Regions from separate parts of the Homo sapiens genome. Here region 1 is linked to region 2. The links come from fine-mapping of genetic effects on gene expression. A gene starts in region 2. The other region holds a variant in brackets. All regions are shown on one strand. Distances are from middle to middle. Region 1 overlaps LOC124909452 (a long non-coding RNA gene). Region 2 holds the start of GFM1 (G elongation factor mitochondrial 1).

Region 1 (14,721 bases), 290 kb before region 2:
CATTTCTTAGGTCTATTAGTAATTGTTTTATAAATTTGGGAGCTCCAGAGTTAGGTGCATATATATTTAGGATTGTGATATTTTCCTGTTGGACAAGGCCTTTTATCATTATATAATGATGCTGTTTGTCTTTTTTTAACTGCAGTTGCTTTAAAGTTTGTTTTGCCTCATAAGAATAGCTACTATTGTTGCTTTTGGTCTCCATTTGCATAGAATGTCTCCTTCCATCCCTTTACCTTAAGTTTATGTGACTCCTTATGTGTTAGGTGTGCCTCTTGAAGGCAGCAGATAGTTGGTTGGTGAATTCTTATCCATTCTGCAATTCTGGTATCTTTTAAGTAAAGCATTTAGGTAATTTACATTCAATGTTAGTATTGAGATGTGAGGTACCATTGCATTCATCCTATTTGGTGACTATATACCTTGGTTTTTGGGGGGCTTTTTTATTGTATTTTTGTTTTGTAGGTCCTGTGAGATTTATGCTTTAAACAGGTTCTGTTTTGATGTGTTTCCAGGATTTGTTTCAAGATTTAGAGCTCCCTTTAGCAATTCTTCTCATGATGGATTGGTAGTGGCAAACTTTCTCAGCATTTGTCTGAAAAAGACTATCTTTCCTTCACTTATGAAATTCGTTTCACTGGGTACAAAATTCTTGGCTAATTGTTTTGTTTAAGGAGGCTGAAAATAGGGCCCCAATCCCTTCTAGCTTGTAGGGTTTCTGCTGAGAAATCTGCTGTTAACCTGATAGGTTTTCCTTTATAGGTTTCCTGGTGTTTTTGCCTCATAACTCTTAAGATTCTTTCCTTCTTCTTAACTTTAGAAAACCTGATGGCCATGTGCCTAGGCAATGACCTTTTTGTGATGAATTTTCCAGGTGTTCCTCTAGTGTCTTGTATTCGGATGTCTAGTTCTCTTTCAAGGCCAGGGAAGTTTTCCTCGAATATTCCCCCAAATATATTTCCCAAACTGTTAGATTTCTCTTTAAGAATGCTGATTATTCTCAGGTTTGGTCATTTAACATAATCTCAGACTTCTTGGAGGCTTTGTTCGTATTTTCTTATCCTTTTTTGTCTTTGTTGGATTCGGTTAATTCAAAAACCTTGTCTTTGAGCTCTGAAGTTCTTCTGCTTGTTTGATTCTATTACTGAGACTTTCCAGAGCATTTTGCATTTCTATAAGTGCATCCATTGTTTCCTGAAGTTTTCATTATTTATGCTATTTCATTGAATATTCCTCCCTTCACTTCTTATATCATTTTTTTTTAATTTCCTTACATTGGGTTTCACCTTTCTCTGGTGCCTCCCTGATTGGCTTAATAACAAACCTTCTGAATTCTGTTTCAGTTAGATCAGGGGTTTCTTCTTGGTTTGGATCCATTGCTGGAGAGCTAGTGTGATTTTTTTGGGGATGTTAAAGAACCTTGTTTTGTCATGTTACCAGAGTTGGTTTTCTGGTTCCTTCTCATTTGGGTAGGCTATCAGGGGGACAGTCTAGGGCTCAAGGCTGTTGTTCAGTTCTTCTGTCCCATGAGGTATTTCTTTGATGTAGTACTCTCCCCCTTTTCCTAGGGATGTGGCTACCTGAGAGCTGAACTGTCTAGCTGTCGTGGTTGTTAATCTCTTTTCTGGATCTAGCCACCCAGCAAATCTACCAGGCTCCAGACTGGTACTGGAGGTTGTCTGCACAGAGTCCTGTGATGTGAACCATCTGTGGGTCTCTCAGTCTTGGATACTGGCACCCACTCCAATGGAGGTGGCAGGGGTGTGAAATGGACTCTGTGAGGGTCCTTAGCTTTGGTTGATTAATGCACTATTTTCGTGCTGGTTGGCCTTCTGCCAGGGAGGTGGCTCTTTCAAGACAGCATCAGCTGTGGTAGTATGGGGAGGAAGAGGCAGTGGGCAGGGCCCTAGAACTTCTAAAAGTATATGCCCTTTGTCTTCAGCTACCAGGGTGGGTAGGGAAGGACCATTAGGTGGGGGCAGGGCTAGGCATGTCTGAGCTCAGACTCTCCTTGAGCAGGTCTTGCTGCAGCTGCCGTGGGGGATGGGAGTGAGGTTCCCAGGTTAATGGAGTTAAGTTCCTAGGAGGATTATGGCTGCCTCTGCTGAGTCATCCAGGTTTTCAGGGAAGTGGGGGAAAGCCGGCAGTCACAGGCCTCACCCAGCTGTCATGCAAACCAAAGGGCCGGTCTCACTCTCACCGAGCCCCGCCAAAAGCCCCAAGTCTGTTTCCAGGTGGAGGGCGAGCGGGCTTGAGAACTTGCCTAGGCTACCCGCCTTCCAGCTGCGAAAGAAAAGGACTTGGTTTGTCCCCTGCCTGTGGAGTCTGCACACCGGATTCGTGCCCTCCTCCGAGTGTTAATGCTTCCTGCCACCTCACTAACTCAGATCAAGTGACAACTTTTGTTGGTCATTTTCTAGCAGGAAAAAAGATTCTCCAAAATTTTCTGCCCTGATCTAATTTCTTAAAAAGTCTTTCATAATGTTTTCTCTAAATTTTAAATATAATCATAATTAAGTACAAGTTTTGCAATACATATCTAATGAGAAGATTAGAATTCTTCTTGGAGGATAACATTTTGCTTTATTGGGGTCCAAAGTCTTCCCTATTACTAAGGCAAAAATGTAGCCTATAAATGAATGATCCAGACAAAGCTTCCCTTGGGTTTCAGAATGATACAGCTAGAGGGGACTTTATAGAGCAAATATTTTAACCCTCTTTTACTGATGAAGAAAATGAAGCCTGGATTCCCAAAAACATCTGCTCTCATTTCAGTGTCTCCCAGCCATGTAGGGAAGAGAACATAAGTCTTGAGACGTGTGGTTCCATTGTGCCTCTTCTTAGAAGGCTTAATGATGCACTAAGACTTTAGAATCAGCAACTCTGCATAGCAGCAATTTGAGTGCTGCAACCAACCAAACGACGACTCACTTTTGTAAACTGGTCTGAACCAAATTCCTGAACTTCCAGGCATTGCCCACATCCTGCCTCCCGATGATCTTGCCCACCTCAGTGAACTGCCACCCCGCCCCTCCAGTTGCTCAGGCCAGGAATCTGCCTCATCCTTCACTTTCTTTCAGACACCCTGCATTCAGCAAATCCTCCTAGCTCTACCTGTAAAATGTATTGAGAATCTGCCCTCCTCTTCACTACCTTCACCTCTGTGACCTAGGTCCCAGCCACTTCTAGGATATTGCAACAGCTTCCTAAAGGGTCTTCCTGCCTCACCACTGTCCCTGGAGAGTGCAGTTTCCATCCATCATCCAAATGATCCTTTTAAAATTATGTCTCTTACATCTTAGATCAAAAGTTGGCAATGATTGGTCATCTCAGAGTAAAAGCTGACCACCTTGCTGTAGCCACCCAGGCCCCTTATTACCTCCCCAACCTCATCTCCTACCATGCTCTTCCCGCTCAGACATTCCAAATATTCTCCTGTCTCAGGGCCTTTGCACTTACTGTTCCATCTGGAACACTTTACTCCCAGACACCCGCATGGTTCATCCCTTTTCTCCTCTAGGTCTGTGCTCAAATGTCACCACCACTCTCCTGTCCATTCCCACTCCACACACAATAACGCCTATCCTCCTTTTAGGCTTTTTCTCCATAGTAATTACCACATCTATAATACTATATAACTTATTTATTCATTTATTTTTTTTCCATTAAAATGTAAGCTCTGTGAAGGCATGGATTTGGGTCTTTGTTTCCACGGCTAGAAACCAGATCTGGCACATCACATGCCCTCACTAAGTATGTGTTGAAAAAATGTAAAATATTATGGTGGGCAACACTATGTCTCCCTCAATCCCCACATCCCAAATATACTGGTGCTACTTTTAAACCTCACCTCTAAAGCCCCACGGCCAATAGATGATGAAATATCACATTATACTCTGCTAACTTGTCCTTATCAACAGGTGTTTGAATGTGGTTTGAGAACAATTTTTAATAAACTATTTCATCCTTTAATAGATACAGTGAACAAATGCAAAGTGTCATAACACATCAGACTTTTATTTGCATTGAAAAATCAAATTGGCAGCTGTGCAATAATAAAAACTTAAGATTATGAGTTGCACAAGGAACAAATAAAGCCTGATCAGTTGGGTTCAGAATTCTCTTGCCTTTCAATACCAGCTATCCATTCCCACACTAATAGTTCTTCCAGACTGTGCTCCTAGAATAGGAAATATTACCCCCAGCCATCTACATTGCCTTAAGAAACCACCCATCATAATCTGCAAAGCCTCTGGTTTTAGACTACTTTGCTCTTCTCTTACCCTGGCTCAATAATTCTTAACCAGAGATGAAATATCAGTTGACTGAGAAGCCCACACATAGTACATATTGCTGGCCCCCATCCTGAGAGATTCTGATTCATGGGCCTAGAGGGGGAGTAGGGGAGAGCAGATATGTAACAGCTGTATTTTAGCAAAACTCCCTGGTGATTTTGAGATGTTCCTCTGGTTCAGAACCACTGTTCTAGTTGATATGTATGCTAAATATCATTGCTATGTGAGTCATTTTAATTGATGAGGGGGAGGACCTAGGAGGAACCCTCAATACTCAAGGACAGAGGAGCCACAAGTTTTCCAAAACTCACATCTCCCAATTGAAAAAAGACACAGGGGCCAGCTGACCTTAACTGGAATAATTCCCTGGTCCACATGGTGATAGGAAGAATGGGATTTCTGCAATTTACTTAAGCCTTAGCATAACTTTTTTTTTTTTTTAAGACAGTCTTGCTCTGTCACCCAGGCTGGAGTGCAGTGGCATGATCTCGACTCACTGCAAGCTCCACCTCCAGGGTTCACGCCATTCTCCTGCCTCAGCCTCCCGAGTAGCTGGGACTACAGGCGCCCACCACCACGCCTGACTAATTTTTTTGTACTTTTAGTAGAGACAGGGTTTCACCGTGTTGGCCAGGATGGTCTCGATCTCCTGACCTCGTGATCCGCCCGCCTCAGCCTCCCAAAGTGCTGGGATTACAAGCGTGAGCCACCACGCCTGGCCAGCATAACATTTTTAACTAGGTAGAAAATGTCCATTTCCTTTCTCCCAAGACTTCTGCCACACTTTGTGATAATAAAATCTACCAGTCCTCTACAATCCAAGTCAGCCTTTGTCTTTCTCCTTAGTTATCCCAGTTCCCAAAAAGTAGGAGGCACAGTTCCTGAAAAGAGGGTTCTGATGTGGGATGTGCGAGTGAGGAATATTTAACTAGGGCAGTACACAGCAGCAAGAATCGGAGAGCTACACAGTCCATGGGGTCAGGGGGGGCTTCCTAGAAGTGACATTTTAACCTGTACTTGATGGATATGGAGGAGTTAGCCAAGGAATGAGGAGCAGAAAGGAATGTTGCAGGCACATGACGCAGCATGTGAAAAAAAAAACAGGAATAAATCCAGTCTGGATGGGGCAGAGACTTTAAGGAGAGCAGAAGAGAATATAAGGGCCCGATCATCACAGGCCTTCCAATCCATGCTAAGGAAACTGGACTTTATTTTAATGTTGAAGAGAAGCCACTGGAGGGTTTTTGAATGAGGGAGGGACTTAAGCTTTGCATTTTAGGAAAAGGCAGTCTAGCTGTCCTGGGTAGCAATGATTACAAAGGAGCAAGGCTGCATGCAAGGAGACTGGGTAGGAGGATGCCACTGCATTTATTCAAGTGAGAAGAGGTTTAGAATCACTTCTTTTGCTGCTTCCCCACTATAATATGAGAGACAGCATCAGAATCACTGAAACCAGAATGATTGAAGGTTTGAGGACCTGAAAGTTCTTTTTATCCTTCATACAGCAATATTTTTTAAAGTTTATTTAGCACCTATTATCTTTTATATCTATATTGTTCAATACAGTAGCCACTAGCCACATGTGATGATTGAGCACTTGAAAGGTGGCTAGCCTTATTTGAGCATGCTTTAAATGTAAAATTCATACCAAATTTTGGAAACTTAGAAAAATGTAAAATATCTCAATAATTTGAATATTGATTACACATAAAAATGATAGTATTTTGAATATATTGGGCTAAATAAAATATATTAAAGTTGATTCCACCTGTTCTTTCACTGTTTGAAATGTGGCTACTAGAAAATTCTAAATTGCATATGTGACTCCTACCTATGGTTGGATTCTATGTCTATTGGGCAGAGCTGTTCTAGGTACTGTGCTCAGCACTGAGAATACAGCAGAGAGCAAAACAAAGCCCCTGCTCTTATAAGAGCTTAATTCCCAGTGGAACATAATCCCAAATCAATCTAAAAAAATCTAAATAGGCCCATTATTTATTATCTATATAATCACCCACTTATAACCATCATACAACATTGTACCCAAGTTTGTATCACAATCACATTGGCACCAAGGAGTTCTTCAGAGATCGACATAACTCATCAATAACATTTTTGCATATGATGGGAGCCAAAGGACTTCACAGACAAACAAAGGTCTTGCAGTAGAAAACTGTACAAGGTTAACCGAGTCATCCTATCACATGTGAAGTGGAGGTCCTGCATCCAAAGAGCCTGTAGTGCCAACGCCATCGATGTATTGCAAGGTGTGGCTGTTTCAGCAAAGCAACAGCATCTATCACATTAAATCAGTACTACTAACTTGAATTTTATTGTTATTGTCATTTGCATATGTTTTTGTTAAATTTAGTTTTATAATTCATAAAGATAAAGATTTATAATTAATGTTTCGTTTGAGCCTTAAGTAGTAATACTATAATAAGAATAAATTTTATACTGGAGATATGCTGTAATATTTTTCCCTTAGAAGGGATCCTTATATTACTCAAGTTTTAGAAATCTTGCCCTGGGGATCATGGTGTTCATCCTATCCACTGAACCACCTCTACCCTCCACCATTCCCACTCCACAACTCAAGGCTTCCCAGTAGCTCACAGCTTGCCACTTGTCAGCAGCACTTGACGGCCCACTGAACAACTGGCCTCTCTCTTCTGTCCTAGAAGAAGGTCCATGATAATTCAGGGGCCTATCTTCAAGCCAACAATGGTTCTCAGGGAGAAGAACATACACCCAGGAGTGACATACAGAACATTCAAGGACTGGTATGCTGCAGGCACTGCCCAGTCACAATGGATGCCACCTATAAGGAACAAGTTCAGCTGTGCCACTGTGTTCCAGCTGACCACCTCCCTGCATGCCCCCACCCCCACCCTCATCCCACCCTGGACCTTGTTTCTCAGACAAGGGAGGGCTCCCAGGAGCCCCCAGTTGTCTTGCCTGACACCAGACACCTCAATTGTCTGAAGGGCTGCCTTGGAGTATTCGTCTCTCTGTATCACTCCCATTTATGATTCCTAGGCCTGCATAATGGAGTGGGGTAGAGGGGCATAAATCCTGCTAGGTTGAAAGACAGCAGAGCATAATGGTTAAAATTATATACTTTGCAACCAGTCAGCCTGGGTTTGGGTCTTAGCTCCCGTAACAGGCTGGCATGGCCTTGGGCAGGTTCTCTGTACCTCCATTTCCTCTTCTGTGAAATGAGCATAATACTGAATCTTCAGTTGAGTTTATGAGGATAATTAAAATATTGTCCAGAATG[C/T]TTTTGGGACAATACTTAGCACTTTTTAACAGTTACTATTATTGGGAAGTTCAAGGATGTCTTTCTCTCCCACAATGGAAATAAAATGTGGAATTAAAATAGTCTAAATCCTGCAGTAACCCTGTCTCCCCTGACTTTAGATTTGTATCTCCTGCTGCCTTTCATTAGGGAGGACTTCATCTCTAACGTTGGAGTTAGTCCACACAGCCTTCCCTTCCCTCACTTATAACCACCGTGGGTTTCTTGGCAGAAAAATAGACTTGGGGGCCCCTATAGGGAAAGATGCATTTGGCAGAGAAATAAGAGAATTGCTTTGGTGCAAACCAATATGTCACCTGCAAATCCACACATTTGCGGTCTTATCAATGGAACTCCAGAATTCCACAGCTCAGTTTCTAAGGAAAGAGTGTCATACCTAGGTGTTTCTAGGTATGAAATGTTTGGGACCCCTGCTGACTTCAGCCATTTTCAGACATCATATTCCTGGAAGGCGGGAGTTGGATATCACACCTAAGGCACCCAAAGCATTGAGCAGAACAGATTTTACCTCCTGGTGTGTCATGTTCAGAATCCAGAATCACTGACTCAAAATACTAAGGAAGTGTGGTCCTCTAAAGCAGTAGCTCTCACATTTTCATGGGTATTCAAAATCACCCAGGGAACCAAACAAAAATATGAAAGACCCAGTCCATATCCTACTTCAGTGAACCCAGGCCTTCATGCACTTTACCAGTTCAAGTGTTTCCTGGTAGGCACCAAAATGTGAGAACCAGTGGTTCTAAAGCAAAGAAACCTCAACAGCCCCTACCATGCTATACTCTAACACTTTGCAAATGTCTTCCCTGAATACCCCTTAATCCCAAGTCTTCCTTTCTATACTTTAATAAAATTAATAAAGACATAAAAGTACTAACCATGTTTAAGTAATGCTGTCTATGCACACAGTGGCATTTTGAAAAGGTATTTGCATAAGTTTATTTTAGACTTGGGGATTCTTACAGCTTTTATGTTGTCTCACCATTGCTGATAGAATACTTTAAAATTATGATGTGAAGACATTTAATTAATTTTTAATTGAAATGACTCCAGGAAGAAAATTATAAATAGCACATTTGTCTTCACTGTTTTCATTATAAGGCACAGAAAGTGATGGATGAACAAAAAACACAGCAAAACTCTCACACAGAGAGTGTAGTCACCAAAAACAGAAATATAAGACTTTCTGGAGTAATGGTCCAGTTCAATCATTCCCAACAAGTGAGTCCAGAATTCTAGAGATGAATCACCTGGATTCTAGTAAGCATCTTTTAAATATCAGAAATGACCAAAAGAACACCCTTTCAGACACTATGACTGATTTGATCTAAAAAGGTTCCAACTCAATGGAAGGCAATATTCTGACATTTTGTTCTTTGCCTTGGAGTGCAAACTTTTACCACAGCACAGTGTTGTGGAAGGTTGTGTGGTGCCCAGGAGGCAAGACTGTATAGAGCAGGAAGTAGAGAACCCGCGCCCAGTAGGCTTGGTTTGGAATACTGGCCCCACCATGAATTTGCCACCATGTTATTCTGGCTATTCAGCAACCAAATCTAGAAGTTGCCCTGCATTCCTCTCATCCTCTCACACTCCACAACCAATCCAACAACAAATCACATTAGCTGTACCGTGAAAATATATCCAGCATCCAATTATTTTTACACTCCACTACCATCAAGATTCTTGCTACCATCATCCCTCACCTGGATGATTATACAATAGCTTCCAAATGATTCTCCCTGCTATTAAAAATAAGTCAGATCATGGTGTGCTTCTGCTCACAGATGTTCATTTTACTCAGTTAAAGCCCAAGCCCCTACCCTGACCGACGGAGCCCTGTGGGTTCTCCAGCTCAACCCACACATCTCCTCCTTCCTCCCTGCACTCCAGCCTCAGGGCCTGTTTGCCACTCCTCAAGCCCACCACTCTCATCCAGGGGCTCAGCACTTGCTGTTCACTCTTTTTGGAATTCCCCAGCCCCTATAGCTACATGGCTCACTTCCTGTCCTCCTCCAGTGACACTTCAAATGTCACTTTCTGAGTGATGTTTGTGGACTTTATACCTACTACAGTTACGTATATAGAGAAAATATCTGCAAGATATATAAGAAACTATCAACAGAAAACTCTAGAAGTTGGATCAGTTTGGGGACAGAGTAAGGGAAAAGACTTATTTTATACTCTTCAGTATACTTTGATATTTTTATAATAAAGTAATTAATAATAAGACTATGAAAATGCTAAGTGAGGAGGTACTCAGTCTAGTTCACAGAAACTTCGGTAACTCTAACAGTTCACGAGTATTATAGCTCATAAGGCTTATGTGTTTAATGCAATTTTTATAGGCTAGTCTGGCAAGGAATCTAGACATGGTGTATATTGTTTTCTTGAGGAAGAAAACCATTGCCTGCTCCAGCCTATTACGAGTGCCTTTGTCCTTCTCTTCCCTTCTGCTGCCTCTGCTTCTCTCCTCCCTGCCTTGTTGCTACTTACCTGAGTCACCTCAGGTGGTTCCTTCAAAACTTCAGCCAAGCCCCAGAAGTCTAGCTCCAGCCAGGTGTGTGGTGAGACAGCAATACAATGGCTCGAGGATCTTTCACCTTCCTCAAGGCATGAGACATAGACTAGCCAACTGCTCACATGTATGGGGCATTTGTGAGCCTGGTGTTCCCAAGTCCCAGCCTGGCAACCTGTGAGTGTCAGCAAGAGAGATGCCCTCTTTCTAGAAGGCAATGTTCTCAGCTTTGTGGTTAAAAAGTCCCATTGAGCAGCCCACAAACACTGGAGGCCAGGTACCCATCCTTCGGGTTTCAATGCAAAGCCAGAATTTACAGGGATATTCAAGGTTAGAACTGCAATTTTTCTTTCAGAAATTAATGTATAATTGAAGGCAGAAATGTGTAACAGAGCACTAAACTAGGACTGAGGAAACCTGGGTTCCCCCACTGACTGGCATATTGATTAAGTCACCTCATCTTGAATATAGGGAGTCGACGGGGTGATGGCTGATGAGGCCTTCAACCCTAATAACTGCTTTATCATCACTGTAATCCGTTGAGTTCTTACCATGTGTCAGATCCTTCATAGTTGTCACATAAGTTCCCTTATGAAGCCTTCATTATCACAAGAATCTAGCAAGGTAGGTATTCCAGAAGAAAACTCATCCCCAGGAATAGTTTTAAAACTTGATTAAGGTGATATTTGGCTGCTTGGCGGGTCTGGGACTCAAACCTATGCTTGTTCAATTTTCCTGCCCTGCCTCCTCTCTACATAGTATCCCTTGCACAGACAGCAGTCTGGAATCCTCACACTGCACAAGTCCCTGCCTACCAGGAGGCAACTCTCTGGGGCTGAATGGCATTTGTTCACTCATTCAACTGTTATCTATGCCTCAGTTGTTGAACACTGTCTAACAATGTCCCTCAATGAGTTTGGCCCTGCAGGTGCCATGTGAATCACTCTGGCCACTGCTAAAGGCTAGTGTCATAGCCTGCTCAGGTGGTTCACAAAGTTCAAAAGAGATAGCAGTTATTATTGGAATGGTAGTGCTTGGAGAGGGAGAGGAGTTAGGGCACAAGCCCTGCTCATCTGAACCCAGTGAGAGCTTCACAGAGTTCAGCCCCTGCATGCATTGGGTTCAGATGTCCCACAAGGAAACTGAGGGGGAAACAGTGTGCTGCACAATGTTCTTAGAGTCACAGGGGAAACCAAGCAAGAGAATGTAAGTGACATGACTCAAACCCCTCACCTCTATAAGGAAAAGCAACTTCAATGTCTTACATTGTCTGTAGATTCAGATCTCCTCAATCTGAGGCCAGACTGCTTCCACTGGCATCCAGGCATGGGACTTTAGGAAGGAACAGTTCCAGGATTTGGAGGAAAATGTATTGTTTCGGCATGTGTGGCTCCCAGTTTGCAGCCAAGATGGTCCAGCAAAGGGGAAAGACTATAACTTGAAACAAACATAGACTTCCCTACCATTGCAGCTGGAGGCTTTGAATAAAAGTACATGCCTAGAGAACACAGGAGTGTGCCAGACAGAACCCAGCTCACGGCCAGGGCCCAATGTGCATTTTGAGGATTGTTTTCCAATGAACAGTCTGTCTTCACAGATATTGAAAAACATTCAGTTAAACACAGTGAAATGGATTTGCACGTTCATTTGATTGTGGTCGTGAATTTGTTATTACTTCAGGAATTGTCAGGGCCTTCATTTGACCATGGTACCTCTTCTGCATTGAAGATCAGTGGGAATAGAATTTCAGGGATTTCTCTCTGGGAAACATTGTGTTCCACAGCATTCCAGTTTTAAAACAAGATTTGGCATTCTTTTTTGATAAAGATCCACATTTTAGGCTTTTCAGGACATGAGACAAAATCAAGGATATAATATAGGTACCTAGCTAGACAAGAGAGAAAAAAATATTCTACAAGTTGTTAAAATTCAAAAGCATTTTTAAAATTCTATAAAATTTTTACAAATATTCAAAAATTTTAAATAATCATAATTAAGTACAAGTTTTGCAATATACATCTACTAATGGGAAGACTATAATTCTCCTTGGGGGATAACATTTTGCTTTATTGGGGTTCAAAGTTAGTATTCCCTATTACTAAGGCAAAAATGTAGCCTATAAATGAATGATCCAGACAAAGCTTCCCTTGGGTTTCAGAATGAGACAGCTAGAGGGGACTTTATAGAGCAAATATTTTAACCCTCTTTTACTGATGAAGAAAATGAAGACTGGATTCCCAAAAACACCTGCTCTCATTTCAGTGTCTCCCAACCATGTAGGGAAGAGAACACAAGTCTTGAGACGTTTGGTTCCATTGTGCCTCTTCTTAGAATGCTCACACTTCCTCTGGGAGAGCCAAACTAGGGGCATATTTATCTTCTGGAATGTAGTACATACCTTTCAGCACTTAAAAAAACAAAAAGCACATCCAGAAAAGCCTCTTTTAAGAGACCATGTTCTGTTTGTTAATAAAACAGATGGAAGTGGCACCACATGACTTTGCCCCACAAAGGCACTGTTGCTCATTATTGCCATGTTGTTCTTATTCATGCACAAGACTGTGTGTCTCCACTGGATTGTATGTACCTCGAGGACAGAGTCAGCATCTTATTCATCTTTCTGTCGTCAGCACCTGGCACATAACAAAGGTTCAATAATTGTTTAAGCTCAATAAATCTTGAATTAGATAATGACTTCTTTTGCAAAAACCCTTTCAAATCCTTCACTTTCAATAAGTGTTGGTCACATGATCACTGTGCTTAAAACTCTCCATTGGCTTATGCTGTACTTGGAATGAAATCCTCACTCCTCATTCTGGCTCAAAGGCCCTTCTTGATCTGGCCCTGTCAACCTCTCCGACCTTGTCTATTTCCACTCTTTCCCACACCAGCCACACTGGCCCATTTTCCATTCACCAGATGCACTAAGTAGACCGCTGCTCTAGTGCTTACATTTCCACATGCCTCTTCTTGTGTTTCCCTGCCCACCCCCCATCATTCTCATTTATCACTATCCACATCTTCTTATGTATTTACGTTTTCTTCTGTATACATATGTGAGCTCCATAAGAAAACATTTCTTTGCTGTCTTGTTTACCACCATTTTCCTAGCCCTTTTGTTGATGTCTGGCACATTGTAGGTAGTCAATGCTTGTTGAATAAATAAATTCCTCCAGGATTACTCGGCCTTCTTTTCACTCTACTTATTTAATACAACAAATGTTTAATAAGTAAATCAAGAATGAATTAATCTTCCTTTTGGCTTCAGGATGGGATCTTGGCCTGGATCAAAAGTTTTATTTGGCTAGAATGTGGGGAGAAAGACATGGTGAGAAAATCAGAAAGAACCAAAGACAAACCTGATGGTGCCATTGTGTAAATGAAAAGTTACCTGGCTCTCCAATTTGTTTTCATCTTGCTTTATGTTGCTTTAAACCAATGCCCCCAAAATTACAGCCTCTCACTGGCTGGCACATAAATTTCTGACTTTAAAACCACTTTATTTCGAGTTTGATGAATAGCTTTTGTCACTAGGTAGAGTAATTAAGGGAGCGGTGTTGGCACTCGCCAGGCTGGGCTGACATTACTTTTTTTTCAGTGTTTTGTTACCTGTCTGTCGGATTTGGCAGAGCTCATAGAAAGGCTCAGGGCTGAGTTATGCACATCGTCTCCTGGCAGGAGCTTTGTCAGGAAGATATATCACCCTCCTCTACTGAGCAGCCTCTGTTTTCCAAGAACTGTAGCAGGCACACCTGGCACAGTGGCCAAGGCCCTCTCTTCATCTCCAGTGACAGTTTGGCTACCAAGTGAAAAGGACAGATATTTCCTAGTTGAGATCTTCATATGTCTTGAGTTCCCTACTATATTCAACTTATTCTCCACAGAGGATACTTTATTAATAATTCAATATAAATTTCAAAACAAATGCTTGAGAGCATTAGAATCGCCATCTTGTAGGAGTGAGGAAAAACAGCTCAAAGCACTTTGCAAAGCACAATCTTCACGGCACATTCCAAGAAATAGAGAACGAAAGGGAATCACAGGCCATTAAAGCTAGACTTTACCTAAAGATTCAACTGTAGCATTTTATGGATGATGAAGCTGAGTCTCAGAAGTGACTTTCTCATAGTCCCACAGTTAACCAATGGTAGTATCACTATGTATATATGATCATCTCTTGGTATCCATGGGGGATTGGCTCTAGGATCCCTCACAGATACCAACATCTGAGAATTCTCTGATTTTATATGTCTCTTGTATAAAATGGTGTAGTATTTGCACATAACCTATATTTATATTATTTATAATACCTAATACAATGCTTGCATATCACTTCACATGGATTCAACATAGCACAAGGCACACAGAAAATTAAAGCTTTGCTTTTTGGAATTTTGCAGAATTTTTAAAAAGTATTTTTGATCTGAAATTGGTTGAACCCATAGGTGTGGAGCCAACAGATACTGAGGGCCAACTGTACTTACTTGTTCATTCAGTGGTATTCAGCTGGCAACTGGGCTGGTCTTGAGAGACGAAGATGACCTCACTCAAAATACAAATTGTTTCAGACAATACAAAAAGACAATAGAAAAGAG
Region 2 (15,067 bases):
AAAAGTCCACAGAATGAATGAATAAATGAACAAGTGCAAAAAGATACAATACATTCACTAACCCAAATTTACTAACCCAAACTGAAGGCCTCCTTCTACCACACCATGCATGCCATAATGTGATATGGGTATATTACCCAAAAAGTAACATAGTCTCTCACAGAATAAATACTAAATAAAATGGGGAGCGACTAGGATTAAAGGTATTAAAACAAAACCATCTCAGAGTATTCTTGCAGTCGCATTTCAAAAAGATAGTTACTCTGCGTTTGATGAACTTATCCTTTCCTTCTTTTTAATGCTTTTTAAAATTTAAAATTTTAATAATGTATTTTTAGCACTTACCCAAAGTCTCCATCAAAATAGATGGCTCGTTCCTCAATAAGATCTACAATACCTTTAAAATTACCCTCCAAACCCATGGGTATCTGCATAAACGCTGCATTATGATTTAGTTTAGACCTGAAAAATAAAAATACACTTGTTTACCTTTTTTCTTCTCCCCTAATCCCTTTGAAATGACAAAATGAATATTTTAAAAAATCAGTGGCAGACACTGGAGAACTGAGAAGGGTGTTACCATCAGGTCAGAACAGAAAATATAAAGCAGCTGGGAACAGACTGACAACGTAACTCAAGGAGCTCAGGAAGCCACAAACCCATTTAGGCAACAAAAAGAACTCCAGAATAACTGTTTTACCATCAGATCCCCAGATACACTGGATCAAAAGCAGAAGGGGGAAGAACAGATAATGGAGGGCTAGCCAGGAAATTAAATAGTAGGATAGCTGAGCCCACCTCTTTTTTTTTTTTTTTTTTTTTTTGAGACAAGAGTCTCGCCCTGTTGCCAAGGCTGAAGTGTGATGGTGTGATTTCCGCTCACTGCAACCTCCGCCTCCCGGCTTCAAGCAATTCTCCTGCCTCAGCCTCCCGAGTAGCTGGGACTACAGGTGCCCGCCACCACGCCTGGCTAATTTTTTGTATTTTTAGTAGAGATGGGGTTTCACTATGTTGACCAGGCTGGTCTTGAACTCCTGACCTGGTGATCCACCCGCCTCGGCCTCCCAAAGTGCTGGGATTACAGGTGTGAGCCACCGCGCCCGGCCCAGGCTCAAAACTGAATAGAAACTGCATTCACTGGCAAGAATCCTCACTGGAAAAGAATATGCTCTAGCTACCACTGTTTAGTCTAGACTCTAGACTCCCATCTATAACTATGGTTAAAGATCTAAGAATCACCAAATATTTGAAGGAAACCAAAAGCTTGAAAGAGAAATGTGAACTTAATAGCACTTACCTCCAAGAAGAGAGTTACTAGAGGAAAGAAAATAAAATGTAAAGATTTGAGAAACAATTACCTCTACTGATAAAAATGTTGCAAGGAAAGAGAAAGTTTATGAAAATTAAGTACACAATTGCTGAAAAAAAAAGTTTTCAGGCAAGCTAAGTAACTGAAGAGACACAAATGAATATCAAATTAGTGAGCTGGAAGATCAACCCCAAGATTTCTCTCATAAGCCCAATCCAAAATGAGAAGGAGACAGAAAGAATAAGTACCATAGAAAAGACAAGGCATGAAGGTCAGATCTAGAAGTTCCAGATTTTTATCTGCTTTATAGAAGTTACAAAATGGAAAACAAATAAATGGGAGTGGAGAAAAGAATGAACCAAAGTAATCAAATAAATGCTAAAACAGTGTTTCCTTGGAATTCAGAAGAAGATTTGGGGAAAAAAGACCATCTATTGCCAAGCATAAGTAAAATAAGGATAAAAACTAAAAACAATTTACCAAAAAAAAGTTATAAACACCCAACTAAGAAAATGTTCACTTTCATATCAAATATATCACTTCCATCAGATTTTTTGTCATCAGATACACCATTCTCAGCCTGTCCACTACCATAAACTTTACACCTACATATCCATCAACTATGCCATGTGAAACGTAAGTATGAGCTCTACAGCTACACGTGCACATCTACAAAAGGTGAAAAGTGAAATTCTGACTCTTTTTAAAGGCTTTGTGAAATATATAATATTGTGTAAAATTTAAAATGCTATAAATACTACTGGTTCTATCTGGTACAGAAAGGAAGTGTTACTGTTGTCCTAGAAAATATGTTTCCGTCTGAAAACAAGAAAATCTCATCTCTATGGCAAACTACTTAAGGGCATTAATTAAAATGCTTCAAGGAAAAATTAAAACCAAAGATGATCTTTTGTCTAAATAAAACACAAGGTATTTTTAGAATCTAGATTATAACTTCTCTCATAATAGCAAAACAGTATAAACGGTCAGACTGTTTTCTGAATTCATCTTCAACCTCCCTAGAATTTAAGTAATATTGTCCCCATTTTAGAGATAAGGTAGTTGATGAGATCATACCACAAGCCAATTTACTAAAATCAGTGTTCCACTTACTAACTCACATAAATATATTTAAAAAACTAAATTTAAGAATAAAGTTTAATGACAGTGAATTAATCACCCTTTTGGATATAAGGTTTGCTGTCTAGATCATCACATCCTCTTTGTTTATTCTAAGGCTCATTACCTCATTTGCTGCAGGGCCCTGGCTGGGTTGGAGCCCATTCGGTCCAATTTGTTAATAAAAGTTAGAAACGGAACGTTGTAGCGCTTCATCTGACGATTGACAGTCATGGTCTGGCACTGTACCCCTCCAACAGCACAGAGAACAAGGACTGCACCATCCAACACTCTCAGGGCCCTTTCCACTTCTATTGTGAAGTCCACATGCCCTGAATAAGATGAAGTATGAGAGGGTCTTAAAGAGCAATCTGAATTTTTAATATATGCACTATTAGAAGTTTTTGTATCTCTGCTCATCACATAAGTCTTCTAATAAGAATGTAGATTCCTGAGCTCACCAATACTATTCACCAACCCTTAGGTGCAGGGCCTGGCAAGATCACTTCAAGAAAATACTAGGGCACAGGCACCTTTAGAATCAGCTAGAATATGTAAAAGGCAAGAATCTGCCTACTCACAATTTACTTGCACAAATTTTCAAGAAAACTACATAAGGATGAAGTGCTCTAGGTCCTAAGTTAGTCTTCTTTAATAGGAATTCAGTGTTACACTTTTGAGTATTTGACAATCAAAAACTAATTGGGTCACAGTAAGAGAAAGAACCAAATGTGCTTTTGCCAAAGAAGCTGCAATAAAACCAAGAATCCAACTCACCAGGAGTATCTATAATGTTAATATTGACATCTTTCCACATGGTGTAAGTGGCTGCTGACTGAATAGTGATTCCTCTTTGTCTCTCTAGTTCCATGGAATCCATGACAGCACCAACTCCATCTTTACCTTTCACCTAAACACAAGCACAGCAATTCAGACTTTCTCTGTCCCTGCATTCCAAGAAGGAAAGAAATCTTAACTGAAATGGAAACAGTTGCCAGGTGCAGTGGCTCATGCCTATAATCCCAGCACTGTGGGAGACTGAGGCAGGATGATAATTTGAGCCCAAGAGTTTGAGACCAGCCTGAGCAACAAAGTGAGACCTCTTCTATAAAAAATAAAAATAAAACCAGAACACAGATACTTAACTTAAGCAACTTTCAGATAAGCCTAACTGTCAAAAGTCCGCTGTTACCATTGTTTTAATCTTTCAGGTTTATAAGCTTTATTAAATAATAGCAACAAAACAATTAAAATCTGGTTCTAATTAATCCGGAATCAACCGTGAATATATACCTCATGCATCTTTGCAATTCTGCCAGTGTAGTAAAGGACTCGTTCTGTTAATGTAGTTTTCCCAGAATCAATGTGAGCTGAGATTCCAATATTTCGTATTTTTTCATTAGGAATCACCCCTGATGAAGACCATCGGCAGGCCTTCCAATTAACCTGAAAAAAATACGAGAGCTCAATTCTATGCACCTTTTATAAGAGAGAACAACAGACAATTAAAAGGAGTATGGTGGACATTATTCCTCCAAGAAATCTCACTGGATATGAGATAGCTTGAGAAAGGCACCAGGGGAAACCTTTAAGCCTGGAACTCTTGTAATCAGAGGACAGACTTCAAAACAAGACAGTAAAGACGTATTCTTTTAAAATTAATTAATGAATAAGTTAAATTTAATTAAAATGGGAGACACTTTTTACTGCAGATTTGAAAATACACACTGGGGCAGATAAAATCACAAAGACAGCTCCAAAAAATACTTTAATAGAAAATACAAATTTTAGCTTAAATTTAACTTAATTTTTTTCCCTTTCTCCTTTATTGTAGTTCACAGATGACAAATATGTTTGAGAACTTATATGCTCTATGCAGTGATGCTAGTAGCTCCAAGACAGCCCCCAAAGATTTCCAATTCCCTCCAAACAAAAACAATTCATGAAGCTTGTTTTAACTTTACTCTGGTGGCAGGGGATGGGGATCCCTATTAGATGGAATGAAGATACAATATAAACCTTTCCCTATAGGACTGCACATCCAAAATGCACAATTATTCACGGGAAAAGAGAGGCAAAAAAAAAAAAAAAAAACCTTAGAAAAGGTGGATAAAATATCAAAGTATCTGAGTGACAGACACTTTTAGTTGATTAAACCCTAGGGATACCAGAGAGCGAAACAAACGAGCTAACGAGCTAATGTGCAGGCACCGAGGTGCTTTTCAGCACTGACGAGCGACTGCCAGTATTCGGAGCTGTCAGTCATGAGGACCCAGGGGGTGTCACGGCCTTCCATTGCCCAGAAGGGATCACAAGGTTCCGGGAATGGTCCCGATTTAGCCTCTCTATGCTCCGGTACCTGCTTCCTCTGCCAGCCTAGGGAGGCGGGGGCCCTTCCGCGCCCCAGAGCCGCGACGGCTGCAGCTCCCAGGAGTCTCATGGCAAGCGCAGAGCACGCGTCAAAGTCCCGTGGCGCCGGGTGGGTTCAGCTGCCGGTAACGCACCGGGAAGCGGTCAAAGTCACGCCGGCAGCCAATGTTGTAAGAGCACTTCCGGGGCAAAGGACGCGAGGAAAAAGAGAGTGAGGAAAAGAAAGAAGAGCAACTGGATTGGAGGCGGAGCAGTGCCTACGCTGCTCGCGCGCCGTCTGCCGACTTGGAAGAGAAAGTGCAATCGCTTTGCGGAGCTAAAGAAGTGTTTGCTCCCAGTAAGACGGCATAGGTATATGGGTGAGGGAAGGGAGTCCTTTTGTCTTCGTCTTCTTTTTTAAATATTACCTCTGTATGAAGATACAGAATTTAAACATGGTTGTTAGGCCTATAAAGCAATGTGGAGAAATGTATATAACAATTTAAGTAGAAAAGAGCAAAATTGTCTATTACAAATATTAATAGGTATATATATGACATGGCCTGAAAAAGAACGTGGACAAATTATAGTGAATGAACTATCAATTACAATTACAAATACTTTTCCTCATGTCAAAATGTTATTTGTTATTGTTCGATGTCAGACATTTCATGTCCTGTCCATGTGGAAGACTGCATCCTTGACCATTCTGCTTGGATGTGTTAAGAGGCATGTTGAACCTAACAGGTCCAAAACTGAGCTTCGGATCTTCTTCCCCAAACCTTCCACAGTCTTATCCATCTCATAAATGTAAACTTTAGTGATTCTAGCCAAAAATATTAGTCGCTTTGACACCATGCTGTGACATCTCCGGTCTAATCAGTCAGCATATCCTGTAAGCTCTACTTTCAAAAAGACATCCAGGGCCGGACGCGGTGGCTCACACCTGTAGTCCCAGCACTTTGGAAGGCCGAGGCGGGCAGATCACGAGGTCATGAGATGGAGACCATCCTGGCTAACACAGTGAAACCCCGTCTCTACTAAAAATACAAAAAAAAATTAGCCGGGCGCGGTGGCGGGCGCCTGTAGTCCCAGCTACTCGGGAGGCTGAGGCAGGAGAATGGTGTGAACCCAGGAGGCGGAGCTTGCAGTGAGCCGAGATCACGCCACTGCACTCCACCCTGGGTGACAGAGCGAGTCTCAAAAAAAAAAAAAAAAAAAGAAAATCCAGAACTTACTTCTCCCCACCTCTCAGTACTGCCGTTTCTGGAGGGAACTATTGTAATAGCCTTGTAACCGATCTCACTGCTTCTATCCTTGCTGTTGTCAGTGGGCCGGTTCAGGTGCTTGACTTCACCACACAAAAGAATTTGAAAGCAAGTACAAAGTAAGAGTAGGCAAAAAAGTTTATTGTAAACCAAAAGTACACTCTGAGAGGCAGAGTGGGCTGCTCAGAAGAGAGACAGACAGCCTTTAGTATCTCTAGGGAATTCCCTTTATGGGTGAGGCAGGAGAACAGGGTCTAGAGACAGGGAACCGAAGGCCCTGCTGACTTCCTAGAGCTGAACCAAAAGGAAAACCCCACCTCTCCATGCCCAAGTAACAAAAGGATCGGAGGCTACTCCCAATGCACTGCATTGCAGATGAAAAAATGGAAAGTACCTCTGACTGGTCCCCTCTGGCAAATAATCAGACTGGTAGCAGGCCAAGTCCTCATGTGTAACTTTGTAACTTCACTTCAGCCTCTGATTGGTCACCTCCTGCAACCAAGCAGGCTGGTTATGGGCCACTCCTTCATTTACATAGGGTGTAACCAATGGGAACGCTCTAGAGGGTATTTAAATCCCAGAAAATTCTGTAACAGGTGCTCTTGAGCTGTGGAGTGTACTTTTGTTTCAACACATCTGTGCCTTCATTGCTCCATTCTTTCATTGCTTTGCTTATGTGTTTTGTCCAATTCTTTGTTCAAACGCCAAGAACCTGTATGACTCATAGTCAAGACCCTTCACTGGTAACATGGGAGCTGTACATATATATTCATAAAATACTGGTAAGGTCAAGTATGCAAAGGTGGACCTGTGGTTGGCACAGGTACTTGGCATCTACATGTTCTAACACAGGAGTCCCCAACCTCTGGGCCAGAGACCAGTATCAGTCCATGGCCTGTTAGGAACCAGGCCACACAGTAGGAGGTAAGCAGTGGGCGAGCGAGTGAAGTTTCATCTGTATTTACACCCTCTCCTTATCACTTGTATTACCACCTGAGCTCTGCCTCCTGTCAGATTAGCAGTGGCATTAGATTCTCATGGGAGTGTGAACCCCCTTGTGAACTATCCATTCAAGGGATCTGGGTTACGCACTCCTTATGAGAATCTAATGCCTGATGACCTGAGGTGGAGCTAAGGTGTGGCCGCTAGGGCTGGGGAACAGCTGCAAATACAGATTAACATTAGCAAAGAGGTTTGACTGCACAGAGACCATAATAAATCAATTGCTTGCAGATTCATATCAAAACCCTGTCAGTGAGTGTCAAGTGACAAAAGCTGCACTGGTGGCAAGCTTTATAGTGGCAAGTGAGTTGATGTATTTCAGTTGTACAGTTGCATCTGATGGCAGGCTTTAAAGTCTTGCGTGGCCCGCCCATTATTTTATTTACCACTTCCGTCCGCGCTTCCTTCCCACACTGAGCACTTGCCTCAGTCACAGTTTTGGTAAGCCCACAACCTAACTCTAGCCAAAACGAGTAAAAAACAAATGTCACTGGAGAGCTTCTTTGAAAATGGGGAAAGACCCAATGATGAGAAAATGGAAAACTCTAAGACTGCTAATAAAAGGAAAGCTGCATGTGAAAGAAAATACCTAGAGTCCTACTTAAATTGCAGGTTCACTGCAACAGGTGATTCACATTCTCCAAGCCTGCTTTATATAATATGTGGCAAGCGGCTATCCAACAAACCCATGAAACCTTCAAAACTGCTTCGCCACATGGAGACCAAGCACCCTACATAAAAAGAGAAGCCTTTGGAGTTTTTCAAAAGAAAAAATGTGGACACGAAGAACAGAAGCAATTATTGAAGGCCGCCACTTCCATCAAATGTGTCTGCATTGACAGTGTCATTCTTAGTGGCTAACAGCATTGCTAAGCTAAGAAGCTCTTTACTACTGGAGAATTGAACCTGCCTGCTGCTAAGGACATTTGTCATGAACTTTTAGGAGATGCTGCAGTTCAAAAGGTGGCACGTGTGCCTCTTTGGGCTAGCACCATAATTAGAGGAAATGATGAAATAGCAGAGGATATCGAGGCACAATTACTAGAAAGGATTAATGGGGCTGGGTGCAGTGGCTCATGCCTATAATCCCAGCACTTTGGGAGGCCGAGGCGGGCGCATCACAAGGTCAGGAGTTCAAGACCAGCCTGACCAACATGGTAAAACCCCATCTCTACTAAAAATACAAAAATCTGCCAGGCATGGTGGCATGCGCCTGTAATCCCAGCTACTCAGGAGGCTGAGGCAGGAGAATCACTTGAACCCGTGAGGCGGAGGTTGCAGTGAGCCAAGATCATGCCACTGCACTCCAGCTTGGGTGACAGATCGAGACTCAATCTCAAAAAAAAAAAAGAAAAGAAAGGATTAATGGGTCACTCTGGTACAAAATCCAGGTTGATTAATTTACTGAGGTTGACAACAAGTCAACAATGCTTGTTTTTGTGTGATTTTTCAGGTGGATGTGCATGAGGATATGTTATGTGCACTTTTGTTGCCAACCAACACCACAGCGGCAGAACTAGTCAAGTCTTTGAATGATTACATAGCAAAACTGAATTGGTTATTTTGTGTCAGTTTATGGACCGACAGAGCAGCTGCCATGACTGGACAGCTTTCTGGTTTCACTATTCGGGTCAAAGAGGTTGCTTCTGAATGTGAGTCTACACACTGAGTCGTCCATAGAGAAATGCTAGCTAGCCAGAAAGTATCAAATGAACTTAACGTTTTGCAGGATGTGATTAAAATTATCAACCACATTAAAGTACGTGCCCTTAACTCACATCTGTTCACACAGCTCCGTGAGGAGATGCACACAGAGCACACACACCTTCTTATACACAGAAATGAGATAGCTTTTTAAAGGTGGATCACTGGCCAGAGTTTCTGAGTTATGAGAGTCATTCCACAGATTTCTTTTTTTTTTTTTAATTATACTTTAAGTTTTAGGGTACATGTGCACATTGTGCAGGTTAGTTACATATGTATACATGTGCCATGCTGGTGCGCTGCACCCACTAACTCGTCATCTAGCATTAGGTATATCTCCCAATGCTACCCCTCCCCCCTCCCCCCACCCCACCACAGTCCCCAGAGTGTGATATTCCCCTTCCTGTGACCATGTGATCTCATTGTTCAATTCCCACCTATGAGTGAGAATATGCGGTGTTTGGTTTTTTGTTCTTGCGATAGTTTACTGAGAATGATGGTTTCCAATTTCATCCATGTCCCTACAAAGGACATGAACTCATCATTTTTTATGGTTGCATAGTATTCCATGGTGTATATGTGCCACATTTTCTTAATCCAGTCTATCATTGTTGGACATTTGGGTTGGTTCCAAGTCTTTGCTATTGTGAATAATGCCGCAATAAACATACGTGTGCATGTGTCTTTATAGCAGCATGATTTATAGTCATTTGGGTATATACCCAGTAATGGGATGGCTGGGTCAAATGGTATTTCTAGTTCTAGATACCTGAGGAATCGCCACACTGACTTCCACAATGGTTGAACTAGTTTACAGTCCCACCAACAGTGTAAAAGTGTTCCTATTTCTCCACATCCTTTCCAGCACCTGTTGTTTCCTGACTTTTTAATGACTGCCATTCTAACTGGTGTGAGATGGTATCTCATAGTGGTTTTGATTTGCATTTCTCTGATGGCCAGTGATGATGAGCATTTTTTCATGTATTTTTTGGCTGCATAAATGTCTTCTTTTGAGAAGTGTCTGTTCATGTCCTTCGCCCACTTTTTGATGGGGTTGTTTGTTTTTTTCTTGTAAATTTGTTTGAGTTCATTGTAGATTCTGGATATTAGCCCTTTGTCAGATGAGTAGGTTGCGAAAATTTTCTCCCATGTTGTAGGTTGCCTGTTCACTCTGATGGTAGTTTCTTTTGCTGTGCAGAAGCTCTTTAGTTTAATTAGGTCCCATTTGTCAATTTTGGCTTTTGTTGCCATTGCTTTTGGTGTTTTGGACATGAAGTCCTTGCCCACGCCTATGTCCTGAATGGTAATGCCTAGGTTTTCTTCTAGGGTTTTTATGGTTTTAGGTCTAACGTTTAAATCTTTAATCCATCTTGAATTGATTTTTGTATAAGGTGTAAGGAAGGGATCCAGTTTCAGCTTTCTACATATGGCTAGCCAGTTTTCCCAACACCATTTATTAAATAGGGAATCCTTTCCCCATTGCTTGTTTTTCTCAGGTTTGTCAAAGATCAGATAGTTGTAGGTATGCGGCGTTATTTCTGAGGGCTCTGTTCTGTTCCATTGATCTATATCTCTGTTTTGGTACCAGTACCATGCTGTTTTGGTTACTGTAGCCTTGTAGTATAGTTTGAAGTCAGGTAGTGTGATGCCTCCAGCTTTGTTCTTTTGGCTTAGGATTGACTTGGCGATGCGGGCTCTTTTTTGGTTCCATATGAACTTTAAAGTAGTTTTTTCCAATTCTGTGAAGAAAGTCATTGGTAGCTTGATGGGGATGGCACTGAATCTGTAAATTACCTTGGGCAGTATGGCCATTTTCATGATATTGATTCTTCCTACCCATGAGCATGGAATGTTCTTCCATTTGTTTGTATCCTCTTTTATTTCCTTGAGCAGTGGTTTGTAGTTCTCCTTGAAGAGGTCCTTCACATCCCTTGTAAGTTGGATTCCTAGGTATTTTATTCTCTTTGAAGCAATTGTGAATGGGAGTTCACTCATGATTTGGCTCTCTGTTTGTCTGTTGTTGGTGTATAAGAATGCTTGTGATTTTTGTACATTGATTTTGTATCCTGAGACTTTGCTGAAGTTGCTTATCAGCTTAAGGAGATTTTGGGCTGAGACAATGGGGTTTTCTAGATAAACAATCATGTCGTCTGCAAACAGGGACAATTTGACTTCCTCTTTTCCTAATTGAATACCCTTTATTTCCTTCTCCTGCCTGATTGCCCTGGCCAGAACGTCCAACACTATGTTGAATAGGAGCGGTGAGAGAGGGCATCCCTGTCTTGTGCCAGTTTTCAAAGGGAATGCTTCCAGTTTTTGCCCATTCAGTATGATATTGGCTGTGGGTTTGTCATAGATAGCTCTTATTATTTTGAAATACGTCCCATCAATACCTAATTTATTGAGAGTTTTTAGCATGAAGGGTTGTTGAATTTTGTCAAAGGCTTTTTCTGCATCTATTGAGATAATCATGTGGTTTTTGTCTTTGGCTCTGTTTATATGCTGGATTACATTTATTGATTTGCGTATATTGAACCAGCCTTGCATCCCAGGGATGAAGCCCACTTGATCATGGTGGATAAGCTTTTTGATGTGCTGCTGGATTTGGTTTGCCAGTATTTTATTGAGGATTTTTGCATCAATGTTCATCAAGGATATTGGTCTAAAATTCTCTTTTTTGGTTGTGTCTCTGCCCGGCTTTGGTATCAGAATGATGCTGGCCTCATAAAATGAGTTAGGGAGGATTCCCTCTTTTTCTATTGATTGGAATAGTTTCAGAAGGAATGGTACCAGTTCCTCCTTGTACCTCTGGTAGAATTCGGCTGTGAATCCATCTGGTCCTGGACTCTTTTTGGTTGGTAAACTATTGATTATTGCCGCAATTTCAGCTCCTGTTATTGGTCTATTCAGAGATTCAACTTCTTCCTGGTTTAGTCTTGGGAGAGTGTATGTGTCAAGGAATGTATCCATTTCTTCTAGATTTTCTAGTTTATTTGCGTAGAGGTGTTTGTAGTATTCTCTGATGGTAGTTTGTATTTCTGTGGGATCAGTGGTGATATCCCCTTTATCATTTTTTATTGTGTCTATTTGATTCTCCTCTCTTTTTTTCTTTATTAGTCTTGCTAGCGGTCTATCAATTTTGTTGATCCTTTCAAAAAACCAGCTCCTGGATTCATTGATTTTTTGAAGGGTTTTTTGTGTCTCTATTTCCTTCAGTTCTGCTCTGATTTTAGTTATTTCTTGCCTTCTGCTAGCTTTTGAATGTGTTTGCTCTTGCTTTTCTAGTTCTTTTAATTGTGATGTTAGGGTGTCAATTTTGGATCTTTCCTGCTTTCTCTTGTGGGCATTTAGTGCTAGAAATTTCCCTCTACACACTGCTTTGAATGCGTCCCAGAGATTCTGGTATGTTGTGTCTTTGTTCTCGTTGGTTTCAAAGAACATCTTTATTTCTGTCTTCATTTCGTTATGTACCCAGTAGTCATTCAGGAGCAGGTTGTTCAGTTTCCATGTAGTTGAGCGGCTTTGAGTGAGATTCTTAATCCTGAGTTCTAGTTTGATTGCACTGTGGTCTGAGAGATAGTTTGTTATAATTTCTGTTCTTTTACATTTGCTGAGGAGAGCTTTACTTCCAACTGTGTGGTCAATTTTGGAATAGGTGTGGTGTGGTGCTGAAAAAAACGTATATTCTGTTGATTTGGGGTGGAGAGTTCTGTAGATGTCTATTAGGTCTGCTTGGTGCAGAGCTGAGTTCAATTCCTGGGTATCCTTGTTGACTTTCTGTCTCGTTGATCTGTCTAATGTTGACAGTGGGGTGTTAAAGTCTCCCATTATTAATGTGTGGGAGTCTGAGTCTCTTTGTAGGTCACTCAGGACTTGCTTTATGAATCTGGGTGCTCCTGTATTGGGTGCATATATATTTAGGATAGTTAGCTCCTCTTGTTGAATTGATCCCTTTACCATTATGTAATGGCCTTCTTTGTCTCTTTTGATCTTTGTTGGTTTAAAGTCTGTTTTATCAGAGACTAGGATTGAAACCCCTGCCTTTTTTTGTTTTCCATTTGCTTGGTAGATCTTCCTCCATCCTTTTATTTTCAGCCTATGTGTGTCTCCTCATGTGAGATGGGTTTCCTGAATACAGCACACTGATGGGTCTTGACTCTTTATCCAACTTGCCAGTCTGTGTCTTTTAATTGGAGAATTTAGTCCATTTACATTTAAAGTTAATATTGTTATGTGTGAATTTGATCCTGTCATTATGATGTTAGCTGGTGATTTTGCTCGTTAGTTGATGCAGTTTCTTCCTAGTCTCGATGGTCTTTACATTTTGGCATGATTTTGCAGCGGCTGGTACCGGTTGTTCCTTTCCATCTTTAGCGCTTCCTTCAGGAGCTCTTTTAGGGCAGGCCTGGTGGTGACAAAATCTCTCAGCATTTGCTTGTCTGTAAAGTATTTTATTTCTCCTTCACTTATGAAGCTTAGTTTGGCTGGATATGAAATTCTGGGTTGAAAATTCTTTTCTTTAAGAATGTTGAATATTGGCCCCCACTCTCTTCTGGCTTGTAGGGTTTCTGCCGAGAGATCCGCTGTTAGTCTGATGGGCTTCCCTTTAAGGGTAACCCGACCTTTCTCTCTGGCTGCCCTTAACATTTTTTCCTTCATTTCAACTTTGGTGAATCTGACAATTATGTGTCTTGGAGTTGCTCTTCTCGAGGAGTATCTTTGTGGCGTTCTCTGTATTTCCTGAATCTGAACGTTGGCCTGCCTTGCTAGATTGGGGAAGTTCTCCTGGATAATATCCTGCAGAGTGTTTTCCAGCTTGGTTCCATTCTCCGCATCACTTTCAGGTACACCAATCAGACGTAGATTTGGTCTTTTCACATAGTCCCATATTTCTTGTAGGCTTTGCTCATTTCTTTTTATTCTTTTTTCTCTAAACTTCCCTTCTCGCTTCATTTCATTCATTTCATCTTCCATTGCTGATACCCTTTCTTCCAGTTGATCGCATCGGCTCCTGAGGCTTCTGCATTCTTCACGTAGTTCTCGAGCCTTGGTTTTCAGCTCCATCAGCTCCTTTAAGCACTTCTCTGTATTGGTTATTCTAGTTATATATTCTTCTAAATTTTTTTCAAAGTTTTCAACTTCTTTGCCTTTGGTTTGAATGTCCTCCCGTAGCTCAGAGTAATTTGATCGTCTGAAACCTTCTTCTCTCAGCTCGTCAAAGTCATTCTCCATCCAGCTTTGTTCCGTTGCTGGTGAGGAACTGCGTTCCTTTGGAGGAGGAGAGGCGCTGTGCGTTTTAGAGTTTCCAGTTTTTCTGTTCTGTTTTTTCCCCATCTTTGTGGTTTTATCTACTTTTGGTCTTTGATGATGGTGATGTACAGATGGGTTTTCGGTGTGGATGTCCTTTCTGTTTGTTAGTTTTCCTTCTAACAGACAGGACCCTCAGCTGCAGGTCTGTTGGAATACCCTGACGTGTGAGGTGTCAGTGTGCCCCTGCTGGGGGGTGCCTCCCAGTTAGGCTGCTCGGGGGTCAGGGGTCAGGGACCCACTTGAGGAGGTAGTCTGCCCGTTCTCAGATCTCCAGCTGTGTGCTGGGAGAACCACTGCTCTCTTCAAAGCTGTCAGACAGGGACATTTAAGTCTGCAGAGGTTACTGCTGTCTTTTTGTTTGTCTGTGCCCTGCCCCCAGAGGTGGAGCCTACAGAGGCAGGCAGGCCTCCTTGAGCTGTGGTGGGCTCCACCCAGTTCGAGCTTCCCCGCTGCTTTGTTTACCTAAGCAAGCCTGGGCAATGGCGGGCTCCCCTCCCCCAGCCTCGCTGCTGCCTTGCAGTTTGATCTCAGACTGCTGTGCTAGCAATCAGCGAGATTCCGTGGGCGTAGGACCCTCCGAGCCAGGTGTGGGATATAGTCTCGTGGTGCGCCGTTTTTTAAGCCGGTCTGAAAAGCGCAGTATTCGGGTGGGAGTGACCCGATTTTCTAGGTGCGTCCGTCACCCCTTTCTTTGACTCGGAAAGGGAACTCCCTGACCCCTTGCACTTCCCAGGTGAGGCAATGCCTCGCCCTGCTTCGGCTCGCACACGGTGCGCACACCCACTGGCCCGCGCCCACTGTCTGGCACTCCCTAGTGAGATGAACCCGGTACCTCAGATGGAAATGCAGAAATCACCCGTCTTCTGCGTCGCTCACGCTGGGAGCTGTAGACCGGAGCTGTTCCTATTCGGCCATCTTCCATTCCACAGATTTCTTTTAGAAAAACAGTCACCAGTGGCAGCACATTTCAGTGACACAGAATGGGTCACAAAATTTGCTCAGTCGT

What was found. PIP is the estimated chance that this variant, and not a neighbour inherited with it, causes the effect.
Region 1: its variant is the best candidate, but not a certain one, in a credible set for the expression of GFM1 in transverse colon (GTEx, PIP 0.69).

Annotation. Positions count from the first base shown.
Region 1 is chr3:158,924,279-158,938,999 of GRCh38, reverse strand. It overlaps LOC124909452 (a long non-coding RNA gene), which reads right to left. Exons shown (of 2, transcript XR_007096143.1): 1 at 14,611-14,721; 2 at 3,640-13,925. Among named protein-coding and RNA genes, the nearest start is that of MFSD1, 130 kb to the right of the region's middle. RefSeq lists enhancers at 1,356-2,555, 2,115-2,696. The variant C/T (reference allele first, on the strand shown) is at 7,576.
Region 2 is chr3:158,634,436-158,649,502 of GRCh38, reverse strand. GFM1 (G elongation factor mitochondrial 1) reads right to left here and starts at 4,976. Exons shown (of 18, transcript NM_024996.7): 1 at 4,788-4,976; 2 at 3,722-3,874; 3 at 3,206-3,338; 4 at 2,556-2,760; 5 at 346-462. The coding sequence starts at 4,868.